Homo sapiens: one gene and its partner. The main gene of each other region encodes a partner of the protein of the gene in region 2 in a complex. Each region holds a gene or a part of one and is shown on either strand. Other genes may lie near its edges.

Region 1 (10,496 bases), on a different chromosome or scaffold from region 2:
GCAGGTGGATCACAAGGTCAGGAGATCGAGACCATCCTGGCTAACACGGTCAAACCCTGTCTCTACCACAAATACAGAAAAAAGAAGCCGGGCATGGTGGCTGGTGCCTGTAGTTCCAGCTACTCAGGAGGCTGAGGCGGGAGAATGCCATGAACCTGGGAGGCAGAGCTTGCAGTGAGCCGAGATTGTACCACTGCATTCCAGCCTGGGCGACAGAGCGAGACTCCATCTCAAAAAAAAAAAAAAAAAAAAAAAGAAAATGCACACAACTATGCCATTAGGAAGCCCTGGGATTCACAGTGATTCATAATTCTGAGAGCACTCACCACATGCAAGGCACTCTGTGAGGTGCTCCAAGGCAGGAACTCCACTTTATATATGGAAACTATGGTTCAGAAGATGCAGGCCAGGCTGGGTATGGTGGCTCACGCCTGTAATCCCAGCACTTTGGGAGGCCAAGGCGGGTGGATCACCTGAGGTCAGGAGTTCGAGACCAGCCTGGCCAACATGGTGAAACCCCGTCTCTACTAAAAATACAAAAAAAAAAAAAAAAAGCCAGGCGAGGTGGTGGGTGCCTGTAATCCCAGCTACTTGGGAGGCTGAGGCAGGAGAATCGCTTGAACCTGGGAGGTGGAGGTTGCAGTGAGTCAAGATCATGCCACTGCACTGGGCAACAAGAGCAAAACTCCACCTCAAATAAAAAAAAAAAAAAAAAAGATGCAGGCCATTTGCCCAATGTGATCTCGCTAAGTGGCAGAATCCATTTGAATTAAGATAAACCATTTCTAAAGATTAAGCACTTTTGCCTCCTACTCCTTCCTACCTCCTTTGTTTTTTGCTTTTTACACAACTTTTGGGTTACCCAATCTCTTGAGAATCTGCCAACTCTCTCCCCCTAGAAAAAATGCTTATGTGCACATACATGTCAAGTTCTGTATGCAATTTCAGACACAGGCCCTCTCAAGCTCTGTGGCTACCTTAGAGGTGGGATAGACCTATTTCTGGTCCTAGGATATTGCTGGGCTCCATAAACAGCTTCTGGGGAAAACAAAATAAATGTAAACTTAAAGCATCATTAGTCACCTTGGGAATACTGTATTCATTCTTCTTGATCCGGAGGTAGGTCTCTTTTAGGCAAGAAGTCTCAAAAGGTGGTTTGCCCACTAACAAGGTATACCTGTAAGCACAAGGTAGGATTTGGCACCAGTCTCCCAGCCACAACCCAGACATGAGAGAAATCATCTCAGGGTCAGAACAAAGGTCAGGCATCCTCTGGACACTCACTCTAACTCTGGGGCCCCTGAAGACAATCCCTAAGTCCACTGAGCAGCCCCAGAAGCCATGACATTGGCTAGAATAAGCCCTCAGCAGAATACACATGGTGAGACCAGGATTCTTAAGGGCCAGTGATTTTTTAGCTATAGCCTGTGGTCATCTAGGACTCTGTGCAAGGGCCTCAGATGCTGCCTGTCATGCAAAACAGGTCAAAGGGCTACCTGCGCTTACAGAAGCAGCTCCACCTTTAGCAGTTCTGTACTTAAGTCTTCAAGTTTTCATTTGAAAAAACCCCACTGCAAAGACGTATGAAAGCCATTGCTACAACTCATTTCTAACTCTCCAGTACCTAGGCCCAAAACAAGAAAGATAACACCTGAAAAGGCCCAAGCCTCTGCCTGCCACCAACCGCTGCTGATGGTCTTAATCCAGACAGACCACTGGCACATCATCTTTCCATCTGTAACTCCTGGCCTAATTTCCCCCACCATGCTAATGCTCATCGGTGTTTAAGACCTTATTGTGCAAGGGAATCACCAAGGGACCTTGTTAAAAATCCAGATTCTGATCCAGTAAGTAGTCTGGGTCCTGAGATTGTGTATACAAGTTCCCAGATGATGGTGATGCTGCCCTGTGGACAACTCTAGCAAAGGACTACAGTAAGGTTGTGGAGACTCTCCCTCCTCCTCCTCCGCTGTACCCATGACCTAGGCTGCAGAAATCCGACAGGATACACCAGTGACAGGGAAAGATATGACAATTAGGCTTTGTTTGGGGATGACTTGTCCCTTGGAGTAGGCTTTCTGTAAAGCAGGCCGAAAGGTCCACAGAAAAGGTCAGCCAGGTAGGATGTCCCAAAGTTGCCCCTGCTGAGACCAGGTTGGTCCAGAGACAACTCCCAACTTACATGATACACCCAATGGACCACACATCCACCTCGAAACTGTGCCCTTTCTTGCTCAGCACCTCGGGAGCTATGTAATTAGGAGTCCCACACAGGGTCTTCTTCCTCTCCCCGTCATATTCGACTTTGGTTGCCAGTCCAAAATCCCCTGGGACAGAGGGAGGAAGAGTTGGTACTTAGATGCCAGCCTCTGACATCTGTCAATGCAGAAGGCTAGTTAAGGTTTGACCATCCAGAACCAGGGCCATCTGATCCCACAAGCCTCTGCTCCTTGTATGTAGCAAGGCTTGCCCAGGAATCTTCCTCCCATGCTGACACCAGGGAGGTGCCTCCAGTGACACTTCTCACCCCTCCTTTTAGAAAGGGGCTATGCTTTGAAACAGGAACTGACAGGGATAGTAAAACTCCAATGCCTTCAAGGATCAAGCAAGTTAACCTCCAAGACTTGGCAAGTCTGTGAAGAATAGGGAGGAGTAGAGACTGTGGCAAAGAAGTCTGAAGGGGACAGCTGTTTTCCAGCCCAGCAAAGGGCTGCCCTAAGAAAATGCTGTCCTCGTATTACTGAAGCTTTCACCTGTTTAAAAGGAGTTCTGAATCAAACTTTTTGTTCAATCAAACCTTCCAATTTAAAAAATAAAAACAAATTCAAATTCTTTGTAAAAAAAAAATATTGCATTGGGGCACAAAAAAATAATGCATCTGTAGGCAAGATACTGACTTGTGGGTTGTCTCCTTCCTTTCTCCCAGCCTCCTCCAAATTCCAGCCTCTTGTAGTGATGTCAAGCACCCCTGCAGGCTCAGCAACTCACCTATTTTCACCTCCAGATCTTCATTCAGGAAAAGGTTGCCCAGCTTGAGGTCTCGATGAATAACTCGGTTTCGGTGCAGGTACTGGCAGCCAAGCACAATTTGCCGTAGGTAGTATCGGGCCTCAGGCTCAGTCAGGGCTTTCCTCCTCTTGTGCAGCTCCAGGAGAGACTGTGGGTGGGAAGGAGAGGGCAGGAGGGATGGGGAGGTGGATTGAGGCCGGTGGGGAAGGGAGAGGGTTACCAGGCAAAGGAAGCACAGGACTGGACTCTGGACTCCCAAGGGATGAAAGAGGGGTCTTGGTGGGTTTCTCTCCTTCCCTATGCCCCCACCCCATTCCTTCTCCAGCACAGCGGCATCTGGACCCTGCCTTAACACTGTCCACAACCATTCGCAGCACCCCTTCTCCTACTAGCTTCCCCCCTTACCTGGGGGTCCTCTCTCAGCCCCACTCCGGAAGCTCCGAGTCCCCAGCACCAGATCCCTTTCCTGACTCGTATCTCCCCCGGAAGGCCCGAAGTCTGGCTCCAACTACCCCCCCACTGACCCAGCTCCACCCCAGAAGCTCCCAGGGCGCGGCATCACTAACCTGGGACTCCTCCCTGGGTACTCCAGGGCCCTAGCGTCCATTACCAGCACCCCTCCCCCCAGCACCTCGCGTCCAGAAGCTGACTTCCCTATCAGCAACATGACTCAGACTCCACTTCACTGGAACCCCCTCCTCTAGCAGCTCCCAGAGCCAAGAAGCCCTTACCAAAGACACTTTCCATACGTAAGCGGGAGGCTCCCAGCACCCTTCTCTAGCAGCTCCAAGTCCCAGGCTCTCCCTTGCTGGGTACTCTTTCCAGCAGCTCCAGGTCTGGGCGCTCCAACTGCCCCGCAGGCAGTTCCAGTTCCCCAGCAGCGACACTCACCCTCCGGCGGCAGAGCTCCAACACCACGAACACGAAGTCGTTGTCCTCGAAAAAGCCGTGGAATCCTACGACGTGCTGGTGGGCGAGGCTGCGGTGAATGGATATTTCCATGGACATCTTCTCCCTCTGGTGCGGCTTGAGCAGCAGAGACTTAGGCACAATCTTGCCCGCGAACACCTCCTTGGTGTCCGCGTCCGAGATCTCGAAGCACTTGGCAAAGCCGCCCTTGCCCAAAAAGCGGCCCCGCACATAGCGCCGCCGGCTGCGTGGGTCCACTAGGACCTCCGGGATCTCTTTCGCCGGTGGAGCCGCCGCCGGAGCTCCGGGAGCTGCAACTCCGGGGACCCCGGCTTTCCCAGGGTCGGCCGGTGCCCGTGCCAGCTTCCCTGCAGTCACTGCAGCACTCATGCTCCCGAAGCTGCGCTGCAGACCTCGATCCGAGCAGAGCCTCCGCACCGCTCCGCTCCTCCCCGAATTCAAACGCGGCGCTGGGAACGTTACAAAAGCCTGCGCGCCACTGATTGGCCGCGGGGATTTAAAATCCAAACCCGCCCGCCGCGCGGCACCATGGGAGCGCCCTGCGCAGCAGCAGCCTTTAAACCCGGACCCAGCCGGGGAAAACCTGATTGACACGGACGCCCGAACACGTGGGATAGCCTGGGAAACCAAACCCGGCGTGGATGCGGAGACCCAGCCCCGAGAGAGGAGGAATTCCTTCGGGGTTTCTCCCTTTCTCGGGCGTCCGGGAAAGCTCCTGCGGTTCACTTGCGCCTCCTCCAGGAAGCTTTTACTTAAATCTTCCTCTACCTCGGGGCCAGGGAACAGTAGCATCGCCATCACCTGAGAGCTTGTTAGAACCGCAAAGGCAAACGTTCAGGCCCTACCCCAGACCTCCCGAGTCAGTGTCCGCCTCTCAACAAGACTGCTCAGGTGATTCCTACACATCCTGAAGTTGGAGAAGCACAGTACCAGAGCCCCCCATGATGCAACGAAGCTGTCTGGCCTCCTCGCTACTGAATTTCCCAGGGCCTAAAATAGTGGACACTCAGTTTCTTGGTCAGAGGGAGGGAAGGTTGGAAGAATGCCTAGCAAACTGGCAGGTCATAGCCAAATGTGTCTTGCGGGGTTTTGTTTGGCCTCCCCCCACGCCTTTTTTTTGTGTGTGTGACGGAATCTTGCTCTGTCGCCCAGGCTGGAGTGCAGTGGCACGATCTCAGCTCACTGCAACCTCTGCTTCCCGGGTTCAAGCAATCCTCCCGCCTCGGCCTCCCTAGCAGCTGGAATTACAAGCATGCACCACCATGCCCGGCTAATTTTTGTAATTTTAGTAGAGAAGAGGTTTCACCATGTTGGCCAGGCTGGTCTTGAACTCCTGACCTCAAGTGATCTGCCCCTCGGCCTCCCAAATGCTGGGATTACAGGCGTGAGCCACCGCGCCCCGCCATTGTAAAACATTTACAGCATTTAAAAGAGGAGCTCATAAAAGTTGGGATTTGTGGCCTTTCCTGAAAAAAATCAGCTCTAGCTACTTACTCTGTGCCTACATGCTTTCAGTTTGCCACAGTTTACAGCTACACCCGTTTGTTCTGTAGGTACTTGAGTGGCAACCCTGGAACAGTAAAATACCCACGTTAAAAGCTCTTTCTCTGTGCCTCCTTAGCACCCTCTGATCCTTCATAGAGCCCAGCAAAAATCAACCATACTATAAGCATCCTTCACCTGCCTTGCAGCTAAGCTGAAGGACAATGAGGACAATGATGCCGTCCTTTCTACCCCATGTCCCAAGCTCCCAGAGCAGTGCTTGGTAAAAAAAAAAGGGTACTTACTAAAATGTTGGCTGAATAAAAGGAAGACTTTGAAAAATTAAGTTATTTTGTACCCCTATAGTGTGAATTCTTTTTATTGAAATTTAATACACTTACAGAAAAAAATGTACATATTATAATTGTTCATAGAGCTCAGTGAATTTTCACAAACTGAACAAATCTGTAAACCACACCCAGATTGAGAAAGGGAACATGACAAACACCCTGCAAGTCTCCCTTGTGCCCTGTGCTGGGGGGTGCCAACACCACCACCTCCTAGTCTGATGATGTACTAGGAGATTCACAGACTCAGCCTGTAGTCATACTCATGGCTATGTTTTACTACAGCGAAAGGCTAGGAAGCAAAATCAGCAAAGGAAAAAAGCGCATGGACAAAGTCCAGGGAAACCAGGTGTAAGCCTCCCACAGTCCTCTCCCAGCAGAGTCACATAGGACACAATTCCTCCAGCAATCAGTTGTGACAACCCATGTGCAATGTTGTATACAAGGGAAGCTCATTACAGACTCAGTGTTCAGGGTTCTCATTGGGAGCTGCTCACCTCATCCTCTGCCTAACACATATGAAAATCTGACTCCCAGAAGGAAAGCAGATGTTGGGCATAACCCACATTGTTTGTACGAACAGTTTAGGCACAGTGAGCCACTCTTATCATTTAGGGAGTAATGAGAACCCTCCTGAAATCCAAGCTTTCAGATGCCAGCCAAGGGCCAGCCTTGCAAACAGGCCTGCTTTCTCATCTCTTTTCACACAGTCCATCTCCTTATTGAGGCTTCTTTACAGCAAAATTATTATTAGTAGGACCACATGCAAAAGGGTGAGACCAACCTCAAATATGGACCTCAGTTCTTCCTGGTAGGGGTCCTGGACTTAACCAGCTAAAATAAATCCCATTAACCATAAAGTCTATCTTAGGAAGCCAGGTGGCTTCCTCCTTAATTCCTTTTTGTTGTTGTTGTTGAGATGGAGTCTTGCTCTGTCACCCAGGCTGGAGTGCAGTGGCGTGATCTTGGCTCACTGCAGCCTCCACCTCCTGGGTTCAAGCGATTCTCCTGCCTCAGCCTCCCGAGTAGCTGGGACTACAGGTGCACACCACCACACCCAGCTAATTTTTTTATTTTTGTAGGGACTACAGGTGCACACCACCACACCCAGCTAATTTTTTTATTTTTGTATTTTTACTTTTCACCATGTCGGTCAGGCTGGTCTCAAACTCCTGACCTCAGGTGATCTGCCCACCTCAGCCTCCCAAAGTGCCGGGATTACAGGCATGAGCCACCGTGCCCAGCCCTTAATTGCTGTCTGAACCTTTTTTTTTTTTTTCAACCTGACCTGAGGCATCAATTCAGGCACAGTATAACTCTGACCAGTAAGCGGAAGCTAACCCAAATGCTTTCCAGGGCTGAGGGGACATCATGAGAGTTGTGGTCATGTACAGAAGCACAGTCCCAGGGGCACAGGTGGTACCCCTGTAAACAAAGAATTTGCAATATTAGGGCACCTCAAGCAGGACATCCATTAGGCTGTACAGGTGAACAGACCTCCTACCAGGGGAACTCCTGCCCAAGTGTTTCCAGTCCCATCTGAAAAGTTCCCAGAGTCCTTGGCTTCCAAGGGACTGCCTGAAGGCAGTGAGTCCCAAACAGTTTTGCTTGTTCAGGATACAAGTTGATCCATCTCATGAGCATGGATGACATTTGTGGGAGATCTTCATGGAAAGCATAGAAGCTAGACCCACTCTGTTGTCAGTCTGAACTCAAAGCACTCACAGCACATGGAAAGGCAGCACTGGGAATTTTCCTTCAGCAAGAGGAGGCTTCCAGGGATCAAGCCTCCCCAGGTGCCAGGCTTTAATTATTTTCTCCAATATTACAAAAACAGTCGTGCCCTGTTCAGCAATCATAACATTGCATTTTTTCAACCATCTCTTACTCTCAGCTAGGCCTTTCCTCTGGAAGGGTTGTATGTAAGAGGCACAAAAGCATTTTTGTAGATAAACTTTTTTTTTTTTTTTTTTGAGATATGGTCTGGCTCTGTTGCCCAGGCTAGAGTGCGGTGGCACGATTTTGGCTCACTGCAACCTCCGCCTCCTGGGCTCAAGCCATCCTCCTACCTCAGCCTCCTAAGTAGCTGGAACCAAAGGCACATGCCATCATGTCCAGCTAATTTTTGCATTTTTTGTAGACACAGGATTTCACCATGTTGCCAGGCTGGTCTTGAACTCCTGAACTCAAGCAATCTGCCCACCTCGGCCTCCCAAAGTGCTGGGATCATATGCATCCATCACTGCGCCTGGCCAACATTTTTTTTTTTAACTATCATCCTAGAGTTCAAGTAGATAAACGTTTTTATGCAACTTAACCAGAAAGACATTCAGAAATTGGTAATTATGTGTGGAGGGTTGAATTATGTCCCCACAAAAATTCATGCTGAAGCCCTAACCATCTACCTGTACCTCAAAATGTGAGTATATTTGAAGATAGGCCCTGAAGAGGTAACTAAGTTAAAATGGGATTGTTAGGATGGGCCCTAATCCAACCTGAGTGGTATCCTTATTAAAAGAGAAGATTAGGACACAGACACCCAGACAGAGGGACCATACAAGGACACAGTAAGAAGGCAGCCATCTGCAAGCCAAGCAGAGAGGCCTCAGAAGAATCTAAAGCTGTCGACACCTTGTCCTGGACTTTCAGCCTCCAGAACTGCAGGAAAATAAGTTTCTATTGTGTAAGTCACTCAGTTTGTGGTACTTTGTTATGGTATCCTTAGCAAACTAATAAAGGATGAAACCCTGAATTTTTAAAAATTTCAAAATGTGTTTACATAATCTTCTACCCCTTTTGTCCTGATTATTCAATGAGCAGACTAGAAAAGCCTAATACCTTTCTGGGGACAGCTACGTTTTAATAATCCACCTACCTTACTAAGCTGTGTGTGCTGGGAGAAAAGTGAGGGAAGTAGAGTCAGGCTGTCAGTCCACTGTTGCAAGCTGCAACTAATCCCAAAAGCTGAATGCAACAAGTCAACAGCAGTGAGAGAAGCCCCAGAGAAGGTTTGAGTCTGGTCTGTCAAAAGCAGGAGGAGAGGTCATAGTCCTTGCGATGTGCCCTTCCCCAGCTTGGAGCGTTTGGCAAATATTAGAAGTTAGGAATGCAATTAGCCTCTGTATTAGAGACAAAGAGCCTATCAGCAGCTTGATCTTAGATGGTCCCATTAGAGAATAAGCCCTTTTCAGCCAGGTTCCAGGACGTTTTCATAGTTTAGCGCTCCACGGAGGGGGTCCTTAATCTCCAACGGCCCCAACGTCTGAGTCCTGGTCATTGAGCCTGTGCCTGCTTTCAGTTCAGCATAGCTCGTGTTGAGGCTAAAACAGCTCAAGGCAGACAGTAGCAGGTTTCAGCTTAGAGTCAGGGCCAGGCAATTAGGATCTGAGAATTTGAGATTCTCAACAAGCAGCTGCTTTTCTTCAGCAGCAGTGAAGGCATGCTGCATGGCCAGACAGCTGTGGTCCAAGTGACATGCAAGGCTGCCTTTTTATCTTGTTGGTCTTAGAGTCCAATTGACCCACTCAAAAAAAATGCATATTAGACTAGACAATCATCAGCCTCTAAGGGGAGACATTTGATTTTGACAAGGGTTCATTAGCAATTTAACTGTATTTTCATTTTCCAAACAGATTGCTTCTCTTTACATGTTGTCTCCCTCTTTCCCGAGGCTCCAGTAAGCACGAATCACAGCAAAAATAATCAGTTACAGCCTGTTCTGGTTCCAATATCCGAAGAATTTAAATTCCAACCTATCCACTAGTGGCAAAAAACTAGAAAGCTGTATCCCACTAACACCTTTCATATTTTATTTTTGAGTAGCTTTATTTGATTAGGGTGATCCCTCTAGCATTTATGAAATTAACAAGCATAAAACTTTTTTTTTAAGAGATGAGTAGCTGGGACTACAGGCGCACGCCACTGCGTCCAGCTAAGGTATGTTTTTTAAGCAATGAAATCAACCAGTAAAAACAAGTTCAAATATTTTTCATTCACACACTCAAGGCCTGCTGAGCATCCACTGCATGTGTTTTACTTGTTCCATTAGAAAGGTTTATTAAAAAATGGCGGGGCACAGTGGCTCATGACTGTAATCCCAGCACTTAGGGAGGCCAAGATCGCTTGAGCCCAGGAGTTCAAGACTAGTCTGGGCAACATGGTAAAACCCTGTCTCTATTTAAAAAATAAACAAATACAAGCAAGTTTTTTTTTAAAAAATGATATATTAAAGAAAATCCTCCTAATTCTCTTATGTCTTTTCATAGCTGTTTCCATGTTCTCATATTCCCATCCTTGTCAACATGGAATTTTTGTTGTTGTTGTTGTGGTTTTTTTTTTTTTTTTTGAGACGGAGTCTCGCTCTGTCGCCCAGGCTGGAGTGCAGTGGCACAATTACAGCTCACTGCAAGCTCCGCCCCCTGGGTTCGCGCCATTCTCCTGCCTCAGCCTCCCAAGTAGCTGGGAATACAGGCACCCGCCACCATGCCTGGCTAATTTTTTTGTATTTTTAGTAGAGATGGGGTTTCACTGTGTTAGCCAGGATGGTCTTGATCTCCTGACCTCGTGATCTGCCCACCTCGGCCTCCCGAAGTGATGGGATTACAGGCTTGAGCCACTGCGCCTGGCCAAACATGGAATTTGTTTTATACAGTTGCAATTATGGTCCATTAATACAATCTATTTGTATGTTATCAGTAACAGTAATACTAACAGTGAACCCTTATTAAG
Region 2 (10,458 bases):
AAGTTGTTTATGAACTCCTAGGCCCATGCTGCAAATTTTGATATATTTTCATTTTTGTTCAGTTAAGAATATCTGGCCGGGCTGGTGGCTCACACCTGTAATCCTAGCATTTTGGGAGGCCAAGGCAGGTGAATCACTTGAGGTCAGGAGTTCGAGACCAGCCTGGCCAACATGGTGAAACCTTAACTCCACTAAAAATACAAAAACTAGCTGGATATGGTGGCACACACCTGTAATCCCAGCTACTTGGGAGGCTGAGGCAGGAGAATTGCTTAAACCCAGGAGGCGGAGGTTGCAGTGAGCTGAGATCGTACCACTGCACTCTAGCCTGGGTGACAGAGTGAGACTCTGTCTCCAAAAAGAAAAAAAATAAAAGAAGCCGGGCGCGGTGGCTCAAGCCTGTAATCCCAGCACTTTGGGAGGCCAAGGCGGGAGGATCACGAGGTCAGGAGATCGAGACCATCCTGGCTAACACGGTGAAACCCCGTCTCTACTGAAAATACAAAAAATTAGCCGGCGTGGTCGCGGGCGCCTGTAGTCCCAGCTACTCGGGAGGCTGAGGCAGGAGAATGGTGTGAACCTGGGAGGTGGAGCTTGCAGTGAGCAGAGATCGCGCCACTTCACTCCAGCCTGGGCGACAGAGCAAGACTCCGTCTCAAAAATAAATAAATAAAATAAAATAAAATAAAAGAATATTTTCTACTTTCCTTTAAGTCTTCTTCTTTGACCCACAGATTAGTTATACGTATTAATAAGTTATTTAATTTTCAACCACTTGGAAATTTTCCTATCTTTATTTTATTGATTTGTAGTTTAATTCAATTATCATCAGAGAATATGCTTTGTATGATTTCAGCTATTTTAAATCTGTTAAGAGGTTTTATGATCTATCTTGATGAATGATCAACCTATCCTTGGAAATAACCTATTCTTTTTCTTATTATTGGGTGGAATGTTCTGTAAATGTGAATCATACGAATGACTGATGGTGTTGTTCAGTTCTATATCCCTGCTAATTTTCAGTCAGTTCTATCAAATACCAAGAGAGGAGCAGTGTGGTTTCCTATAACTGTGGATTTGACTATCCTTGTAGTTTAGTCCGCTGCTTTCACTTGTCAGTTTTTAACTCATGTATTTTGAGGTTTTATTGTCAGGTGCATACACACTTAGGAATTTCATGCCTTCCTGGTGACTGACCCTTCTATCATTTGTAATGTCTTTCTTTATTCCTGGTTATTTTCTTCCTACTAAAGTCTATTTTGACAGATATTAATATAGCCACTCAAGCTTTCTTTTGATTTGTGTTTAGACGGTATTTTTCTATCCTTTTAACCTACCTATATCATTATATTTAAAGTGAGTTTGTTGTATACAGCATATAGTTAGATCATGTTTTTAAATTCATTCTGACAATATGTCTTTTAATTGGTATGTTTAGACCATTTAATTTAATTATGTTGGATTTAGGTCAATAATTTTATTATTTGTTTTCTGCTTGTTCCATGTAAAAAAATCCTCCACTTCTCTTCTTCTTTGCCTTCTTTTGGGCTATTTGATTTTCCAGTATTTTAATTTATGTTTGAAATTATTTCTTTGTATAGTTTTTTTAGAAGTTGCTCTAGGGATGACATTAAATATACTTAACTTCAACAGTCTACTTAGAATCAATATTTTACTGCTTCAAGTGAAATGTTAATATTTTTATTTTAGCAGGTCATCAACCTGGTGGTATCCCAAGCTATACGTTCAGTCTACTATCATTGTTGTTTCAATGTCAGTTTCATTTTTCAAAGCTCTGCAGTGCTGTTAGGATCTTCCTGTGTGTGGGACACTGAGTAGCTAGCCTAGAAACTGGGTGTGGTCTACTGTTTAGTTCAGTTCTCAGTCTTTTATATGCTCTTTAGGACCATGTCCACATATGTACAACTCCTGGGTGGCATAGAAGTTCATAAACAACTTTATGGGGTTGCTTTTCCTACTTCCTCTCTTTCCGCGATTTCTGGTTCCCTGGAGTTTCCCTTGTCAGTGCTCTGGCCAGAAAGCTGGGGCTTTTATTACTCTGCTCTGCTGTATGCCTCACACAACTGAATTTTTGTCCAGTACCAAGCAACAGACAACAGAAAGAGAACAGAAGCAACAGGTACTTGCCCCACTACTTTGAGGCAACCATTCCTAATTGTAGAGAAGGTTCTCATCTCTCAGAGTTTTAGATATATCTCAGCCCCAGCTGATGCTGTGACTGTAGCCCCTGCAGGATTGCATGGGGACTGAGTTAAGAGAAAAGACAAAAACAAAACAAAACAAAACAAAACAAAACAAAAACAAACCAAACCAAACACTGGGGATTTCCTCTACTGTTTCTGAGTGTCAGAAGTCCCCCTTTCTGCTCCTCAACCCAGAACTGGAGAGCTCCTCTTTAAACTCTCTTTGTTACCCTTCAGTGCCCACTTCTAGGTTTCTAGTATCCTTGAGTCTCACTTGTGGGGCACCAAACTTTACTATTTATAACACTTGTTAGGCCGGGCACGGTGGCTTATGCCTATAATCCCAGCACTTTGGGAAGCCAAGGTGGGCGGATCATTAGGTCAGGAGTTCAAGACCAGCCTGACCAACATGGTGAAACCTCATCTCTACTAAAAATATAAAAATTAGCCAGGCGTGGCAGCGTGCGCCTGTAGTCCCAGCTACTCAGGAGGCTGAGGCAGGAGAATCGCTTGAACCCGGGAGGCAGAGGTTGCAGTAACCGGGATTGTGGCATTGCACTCCAGACGGGGCAGCAGGGCGAGACTCCGTCTCAATCAAAACAAAACAAAACAAAAAACAAAAAAATGCATTTCTTAAAATATGAAGCTACGTGAGAGAGTACTATTTGGCTATCTTGAAATATTACATGGGAATGAAAAGGTCACTTTTACTTTCCTCATACTTAGGCTTTCCTCGTACTTTCCTCGTATTAGAGATGACCACAAAAATACCACTAGGAGTTATGTGTAGTCTATCTCCATTCCCTGTGCAAATTATAATTTCTCCCTTTTTTTTAATGACATCTTCCATGTTAACCCCTTATTGCTATTTTTATGTCTTTAACTGTCTTGTGGCTGCTCTGTAGATATTTCGGAATGAAATCTAACTACTTACCAATGAAGTTTCTGTAACTCCTTCTCATTCCATTCCTTATCCTGAATTAAACCAGGTAAGCATTCTAAGGGATGCCTATTTGTCTTATCAGATCCTACTGCCTCAGTAATTGGAAACTCTTTCCTAACACCAGACTTCTGAAGAGTTTCTTTGACGGAAGGTCTAGCTTTCTTTTGTTTGATATAAAATTCATTTTCACTTTCTTCAGTTTCAGGTTCCAAAATCACTGGAATATTACTTGTGTTTCTTGTGCTCTTTCTCAGGTGAACCACTGCTTCTTTGGTGTTTCCTGCTTTGGTTTTCTTAACTTCAGCTTTCCTTTTAATTTCCTTTTCTGTTTCACTTTCTTCACTTGACAAATCTGGTGAGGACTGATGCTTATAAAATGACATAGCTACCTGATTTTCTATTTTCTTCAATTTTGGTAATAGTCTGGTATTTTTCTTAAAGTCAGAGGTGAGCATTTGTTCCTTTTCAAGGTTAGATATTTTTATTTTCCGGTTGACAGTAAGTAAGTCACGTTCATCGCAATCTTCCTTGTTTTTACTTTTATGACCTTCAAATGTATTTTCTAAAGTCCCCATGGACTTGCTGATGGGACTTTTTTTTTGACACTCTGGTATTACAAAATCTGTTACTGCTTTGATGGTGCCAGCGGACAGATTATACCTCATGCATCTTTGCTCTATCACTTTTCTAGATTTAAGTGGTGTTACTAAAATATAAGCTTTCTTCTGATTGATGGCCATGTATTTTCTTTCTTCATCTGAGAAAAACTGTTCCCTTGAGGTTAGAATATCAATGGATACATCCAATTCTTCAGTTGTCTCTTTAATTTCATAAGACAAAACCAAAGACCAAAATCTCAAATTAGCTATAAACAAATATAAGCACAGAAAATATATTTTCACAAATAAAAGATACTATTTTTATCCACGAGCTACACTGTATACCCACCTGTCATATTAATCTTTCTGAAGCCCAGGTCTATTCAGACCACTGCCCCTTCAACTGTAAACATATACTATTGTTTATACAAACCTGACAGTGACTTCTCACAGTCTTTTAGTAGACATATAAATAAGCTCCTCTGCCTGGCCTTCCACATAGTTCCAATCTCTCACTGTTGTCAAAATCTCAACTATATTCTATGTTCAGAACCACACCACTTGCTATTTCTCAGATTTTCTTGGTTCTCCACTTTTAATAATGTTGTCCACTCTGCTTTGAAGATGTTCTTCATTCATCTATAAACAAAATCACTACCTGCTTCGATTTTATTCTCTAACCCACCTAGTGTACAAACTTGTACACATTCCCTACACTGAATGAAAGCTCTCCTTCAAGTTTCCAGAATACTTTAAATAATGCCATGTTTGACAGTGAGACATGTATTATAATTGCACACTTGTCTTTCAATCAGACTGGAAAAAATAATTAATGGTTAGAACTTTATCTGTATGGTTTGATTTTTTTTTTTGCTGGAGTTAGTACAGAGCCTTTCACATATACAGTAGGCAATAAGTAAATACTTGTTAAATCAAAGCCCTGGAGGTAAAATATTCAGAAGATATAAGAAAACCAGTAGTCACTGAAACCTTACTAAGTATTATATGAGCTGTGCTAGTTAGGAGGACATGGAACTCCATCTGCATGGTTCCACTTTCATTGCCAATGGTGGTCATAGAAACACACTCAAAATGAATCCCCCCAAACACCATGAAGTACAAAACAAGCAAAAGAGAACAACCTGAGAATCTTATATCTTGTCACTAAAGAAAGCAAATTAAAATGAGAACAATTCACCAATTCAAAACCTAAGTAATGAGAAGTCAAACTAACTGAAACTATCCAACTGTAATTAGAAATACATATAAACTGCAAATCATCCCACTGTCATAGAAACATATTACAACCACCTCCACATATTATGTGCCATTGTTTACAAGATGACTGACAGAATGAGACTGATAGATAATATTGAATGCTGGGGAGAAAAGAAGCCTCTAAATTACAATCCGTGGAAAAAGGTAATAATCAAAATAATTTAGAAAGTGTCTACAAGATTTTCCACTGGCATCATATATCTTCAAATTATGAGAAAAGTATTTTCTTCTAACTCCTCATATAAATCCAATTCAAATGTTTACCTGGGAATTTGAAAATTTTCAACATTATAATTTTGAACAATATTTCCATTCAGAGTATTTGTTAATTTTAATAAATTATTTAATAAAGATCCAGCTATCTTGGATACTTAAACCGAATATGAACTCGGAAGTATAAGTAGCACTGCTTTCCTATCTTCTTCAAACAAATAAATGTTCTTCACTTTCACTTCTTTTCACTTATAAGAGGAAATAAAACACAAAAAAATGCTATAAAGCTAATGGATTTAGCTCAACATGAAATTGTAAACTTGCTAACATTTAGACGAAAGCCTCTAAATTATGGCATGCAGGATTCCAATTAAATCACTCTGAAAATCCACACTTAAAACTAAATTATTGTACTAAATTCATAAAAGGATTCACTCTTTACACATTCCTGTAAGCATATGTTAAATGATATATAGTTTTGTGATCTAAACAAATATTTTAGTACCCAGATTAAAGAAGGCAAACCTGTAAGTATAGGTGGTTTTTAAAAGGGCTATTTTATTATGAAAATCATCTTATGTAAAAATAACAAAACCAAACATTTAAAAACATTAAATAATTTGCCATTTTACATGAGGAAATTTACAAGATCACTTTTATCATATTAAAAACATTTCACATAGTAGCTTTCTGCTTATGATTAAAAAACCATTAAAGATATATTACCTTGCTTCTGACTTTTTATTATCCTTTCATTTGTTCTTTCACCAATTTTTAGTTTCTTTGAAGACATTTTATATTCTTTTTTTCCAATTAATTCCTTCAAAACAAAAAGATACCTAGGTTTTATTTTAAAACTACTACCAAAACATGATCTGAAGCATTTTCATAGTATGCATCAAGCATACAAATTTCTAGGTACTTACAGTTCCGCAAATTTCATTAGTGGACACATTCCGAAACTTACTTGCCAGACCTTGAGCACTACGAGCAACATCTGGGAATCCATTATCCTACATATTTTCTACATTAATTTAATACTTTGTGGTTTTTCAAGTGCTTTTAAAAATATGCTTTATTTAAGCTTTACTCTAAAAGCTAAAACTTTTATTGTTGCCTGCATTTTTTCATTGAGAGACAGGGAAAATAAATATCAAGACATTCAGTCCCCAAGTAAATGAAAAGCTGATACTTGAAAAACAGAACTCTTGGCTGGGCGCAGTGGCTCACGACTGTAATCCCAGCACTTTGGGAGGCAGAGGTGGGTGAATCACAAGGTCAGGAGTTCGAGACCAGCCTGGCCAATATGGTGAAACCCCGTTACTACTAAAAATACAAAAATTAGCCAGGCGTGGTGGTGCATGCCTGTAGTCCCAGCTACTCGGGAAGCTGAGGCAGGAGAATCACTCGAACCCAGGAGGTGGAGGTTGAGGCAGGAGAATCACTTGAACCCAGGAGGCAGAGGGTGCAATAAGCCGAGATCACGCCACTGCACTCCAGCCTGGGCAATAGAGGGAGACTCCATCTCAAAAGAAAAAAAAAAAAAAAACAGAACTCACGTCCCTGATATGGTCCCAAACCTTTTCAGTAGTAAATCACCCTTCTAAATATCAACTTGAACTATACAGTGTACAATAAAGCCTTACCTGATTAGATAAGTCATCTCCTCCTCCATTTTGAATAGTATTATTTACTTGGTCATCTGGGAACCTTAATGTTGGTTTATTTTGGCAATTACTGTGGCACATGTTTAATTCTGTAGCTCCTGGTGACTCACTGTGCTTATTACTCTTCAGTTCTATGAATACAAAGATGGAGATTTCAATAAATGGTTATATAAAAGAGAAGCTGCTTTTCTACATGAAGAATTAACTTTGACGCTAGGTGTGGTGGCTCACGCCTGTAATCCCAGCACTCTGGGAGGCCGAGGGAGGAGGATTGCTTGAGCCCAGGAGTTCAAGACTAGCCTAGGCAAAATAGTGATACACTGATTCTACAAAGAATAAAAGGTTGGTGCAAGCCTATGGTCCCAGATACTTGGGAGCCTGAGGTGGGAGGATCACTTGAGCCAGGGAGGTCGAGGCTGCAGTGAGCCGTGATTGTGCCACTGTACTCCAGCCTGGGTGACAGAGCAACACCCTGTCTCAGAAATAATAATGATAATCTGTCTAATCCCTCTGTCATAAATATTTGTTATAATTTGACTAGGATATAAAGCAATTTTATTTGGAAAGAATCACTCTGTATAGCGCTACGCTACATTTTGTTTGAATCACTTTTTTTCCTTCAAAAAAAATTTAAAAAGCCTAGACAGCCATATTATTCACGACCATCTGTTTTGGATCTCCTTTGTCACATCTAAAGACAGAATAGTAAGGTTAATCCATTTTGTAAATAAAAATTCCTGTTCATCCTAACTGCACATCAACTAAATAGAAAGCTAATAACTGTTCTTCTTCTATTTCTTCATGTATGTAGAATTATGTTTCAACTAGTTTATGTACTCCAATGTATAACTAAATTTCTGTAATTAAAATTTTGAGCAAAACTAAATTATACAGTATATAATATATGCTCAACAAACAGTTACTAAGCTGGAATTCTAGGTAAGTTAAAACAGATTCATAAAAAGTATAAAAACATTTTGTTATTTTTCTAGAAGCTATTCTTTAAAGATGTACTGACTAGTCCTTGCTCTTGAAAATATTACCATATAATGAAGGAAGCTTCTATTATGATAGGTCATTTATCATATACTCTGGTAAGTGTAATAACAGAGATAAAGTGCTTTAAGAGCAATACTATGATACACAAGTACTTTTTAGGCAAATCATTAAAACACATACATAAAATTACATTATCTTAAATTAACATGGGTTGGTACCTTTACATAACCTTAGCTATATAATGTTAGATGTGGTTTTGTTTTTTTCATGCAAAGTGCAATGATAATAATAAAATTAATAACAGCCCCAACCACCACTCAAAATAACTTACGTGATATGAAGATAGTGTCTAACAGTTTCATTAAGAAAAGATCTAATGAATTACACTAGAAAAATGATGCAATCATAACAGAATATATTAATATTTGCCCCTAAACCAAGATCCCTGGGGGTGGGGGTGGGGGGAATCATGCCTTATTCATCTCTAAGTTCCTAAAACTTAATAGACCAGGGTTCATGGAAAGCACTTTAAAAATGTTGACACCAGGTGCCATGTTTCATGTCTATAATCCCAGCACTTTGGGAGGCCAAGGTGGGAGGACTGCTTGAGGCCAGGAGTAGGAGACCAGCCTGGCAACATAGTAGGATCCCATCTCTACAAGAAATAAAAAACAAGCCAAGTGCAGTACTGTATGCCTGTAGTCCCAGCTACTTTGGAGGCTGAGGTGGGAGGATTGCTTGAACCAAGGAGGTTGAGGCTGCAGTGAGCCATGATTGCACCACTATATTCCAGCCTGGGAGACAGAGCAAGACCCTGTCTCAAAAAAAAAAAAAAAATTGCTGAGTGATTTTCCTATGGACACAGCTGGTATGTAAAATAGTTTACCAAACTTTAGTCTTTTAAATTTGTATTCATTTCTCTTGTCAATAGCTTTCTTAAACACTTTACTGATAATATTTGCAATTAAGATCAAATCCCTAATAAGTGCTGGCTCTAAGTGAAATGGGGTACAGGAAGAGGTAAGAACCAAGACTAAAGACCAACAAATGATTAAAAGTGAGATATACTGTCAAGGATTTTCTTGTTTTAGGAGTAAAAAAGTAGAGAGCAGGTGCCGAAGCCCCAAGGTTCCAGCATACTCAAGATGCTCCAGCAATAAAAATAGGCAATATGCCTAATTTAGAGAAAATAGGATGACTTTTGATAAAAAGAGGAAGGGTTGAGAAGGAACTAGGGCAATGGTAAGTGACTTTTTGCTAGCTCTGGGGAAGCAGTCATCTACATATTTAACGTATTCCTTTCTCTGCATTAGAAAGGATAAGCAAAGTTTCAAGGGTGGAAGTTCAAATGCGGGTTGGGGAGTGGTTAGAATAGGATACAGGTACATTTATATCCAGTATGGTGCTATGTTTTTGGCAGAAGGATTCCTGAACTCTTTCAAGTTTTGGAAGTTCTGTAAAGCTCTTAGTTACAAGTTTAAGGCAAAATCAGCAGAAATGTTTACAACATATTTTAGTAACTTTTACTCATCTATATTGTTTAGAAAGAGCTGTAAGTTAATGTTCATACATTTTTATACAAGTGAAGCAGATTATAGTGTTGGCAAAGAGCTGATACAGAACAGTTCTGCTCTGGCAAGTTGGTCTCCTTATTAAAAAAGAGAGAGGAAAAAAAGAACAGTTCTGCAATCTGTCGTTACAGCAATGGTCATTCAAGAAAAGCATTTTCTTGAATTCCATTTCTTCCATGAAAGGAAACAGATTTTGCCTATCCGTAGGAATGAAATTTAGTACAAAAATAATATATGTCTTTACAACAGGTTTGCGGTAGGTTGGCAGCTTAAATACTTTGGGTCAAGGAAATTAAAAGAACAATCATCTTTCATTAATTTGTTTACCAGTGTTCTTTGGTATTCTGATTAATAAAAAGGTAATTATTATTATTATTATTTTTTGAGACAGTGCCTCACTCTGATGCCCAAACTGGAGTGTTGTAGCACAAACATGGTTCATTACAGCCTCAACCATCTGAGCTCAAGCGATCCTCCCACCTTAGCCTCTCAAGAAGATGGGAACACAAGCATGCACTACCATGTGTGGCTAATTTTTTTGACTTTTAGTAGAGACAGGGTCTCGTCATGTTATCCAGGCTGGTCTCAAACTCTTGAGCTCAAGCGATCCTTGCGCTTCAGCCTCCCAAAGTGCTGGGATTACAGGCATAAGTCACTGGGCCCAGGCAAAGGTGGTATTTGATGAAGCAAGCTGAATCCTGACCATGATTAATCTGTATTATAGTTACTTCTCATATAGTAGTGAAGAAGCAGGAATGTGGGGGCAGTATAAGTCAAAGAATACTATACTATACACATTACTACTATACACATTATAAACCATAAACAATGTAGACCATGTAAGAACTTAACCACTGTACCAACAGAGAAGTAAAGACAAAACATACCCAAATTATCACAATCAAAATCGTAAGTGGTGGTGGCTCTTTGAGCAGTATCTGTTTGGTTTTCTCGTGCATCATTTTTCATTGATTTCCTTATGTC

The links.
Region 1: the proteins of MIS18BP1 (region 2) and PLK1 are in contact, whole or in part, in a crystal structure (PDB 8S31), measured with the Homo sapiens proteins. Residues at the interface, in NP_060823.3 of Homo sapiens: Asn73, Ile74, Phe75, Gln76, Ser77, Thr78, Met79, Leu80; in NP_005021.2 of Homo sapiens: Lys413, Trp414, Val415, Asp416, Tyr417, Asp419, Tyr485, Ser487, Glu488, His489, Leu490, Leu491, Arg516, Phe534, His538, Lys540.

What each region holds. Positions count from the first base shown.
Region 1 is NC_000016.10:23,672,745-23,683,240, reverse strand, and holds the start of PLK1 (serine/threonine-protein kinase PLK1), read right to left. Parts: upstream 4,353-10,496; 5' UTR 4,309-4,352; coding exon 3,901-4,308; intron 3,158-3,900; coding exon 2,989-3,157; intron 2,328-2,988; coding exon 2,183-2,327; intron 1,178-2,182; coding exon 1,084-1,177; intron 1-1,083. UniProt on the Homo sapiens protein: Serine/threonine-protein kinase that performs several important functions throughout M phase of the cell cycle, including the regulation of centrosome maturation and spindle assembly, the removal of cohesins from chromosome arms, the inactivation of anaphase-promoting complex/cyclosome (APC/C) inhibitors, and the regulation of mitotic exit and cytokinesis.
Region 2 is NC_000014.9:45,220,780-45,231,237, forward strand, and holds part of MIS18BP1 (mis18-binding protein 1), read right to left. Parts: coding exon 10,362-10,458; intron 7,036-10,361; coding exon 6,884-7,035; intron 6,058-6,883; coding exon 5,964-6,057; intron 3,968-5,963; coding exon 3,139-3,967; intron 1-3,138. UniProt on the Homo sapiens protein: Required for recruitment of CENPA to centromeres and normal chromosome segregation during mitosis.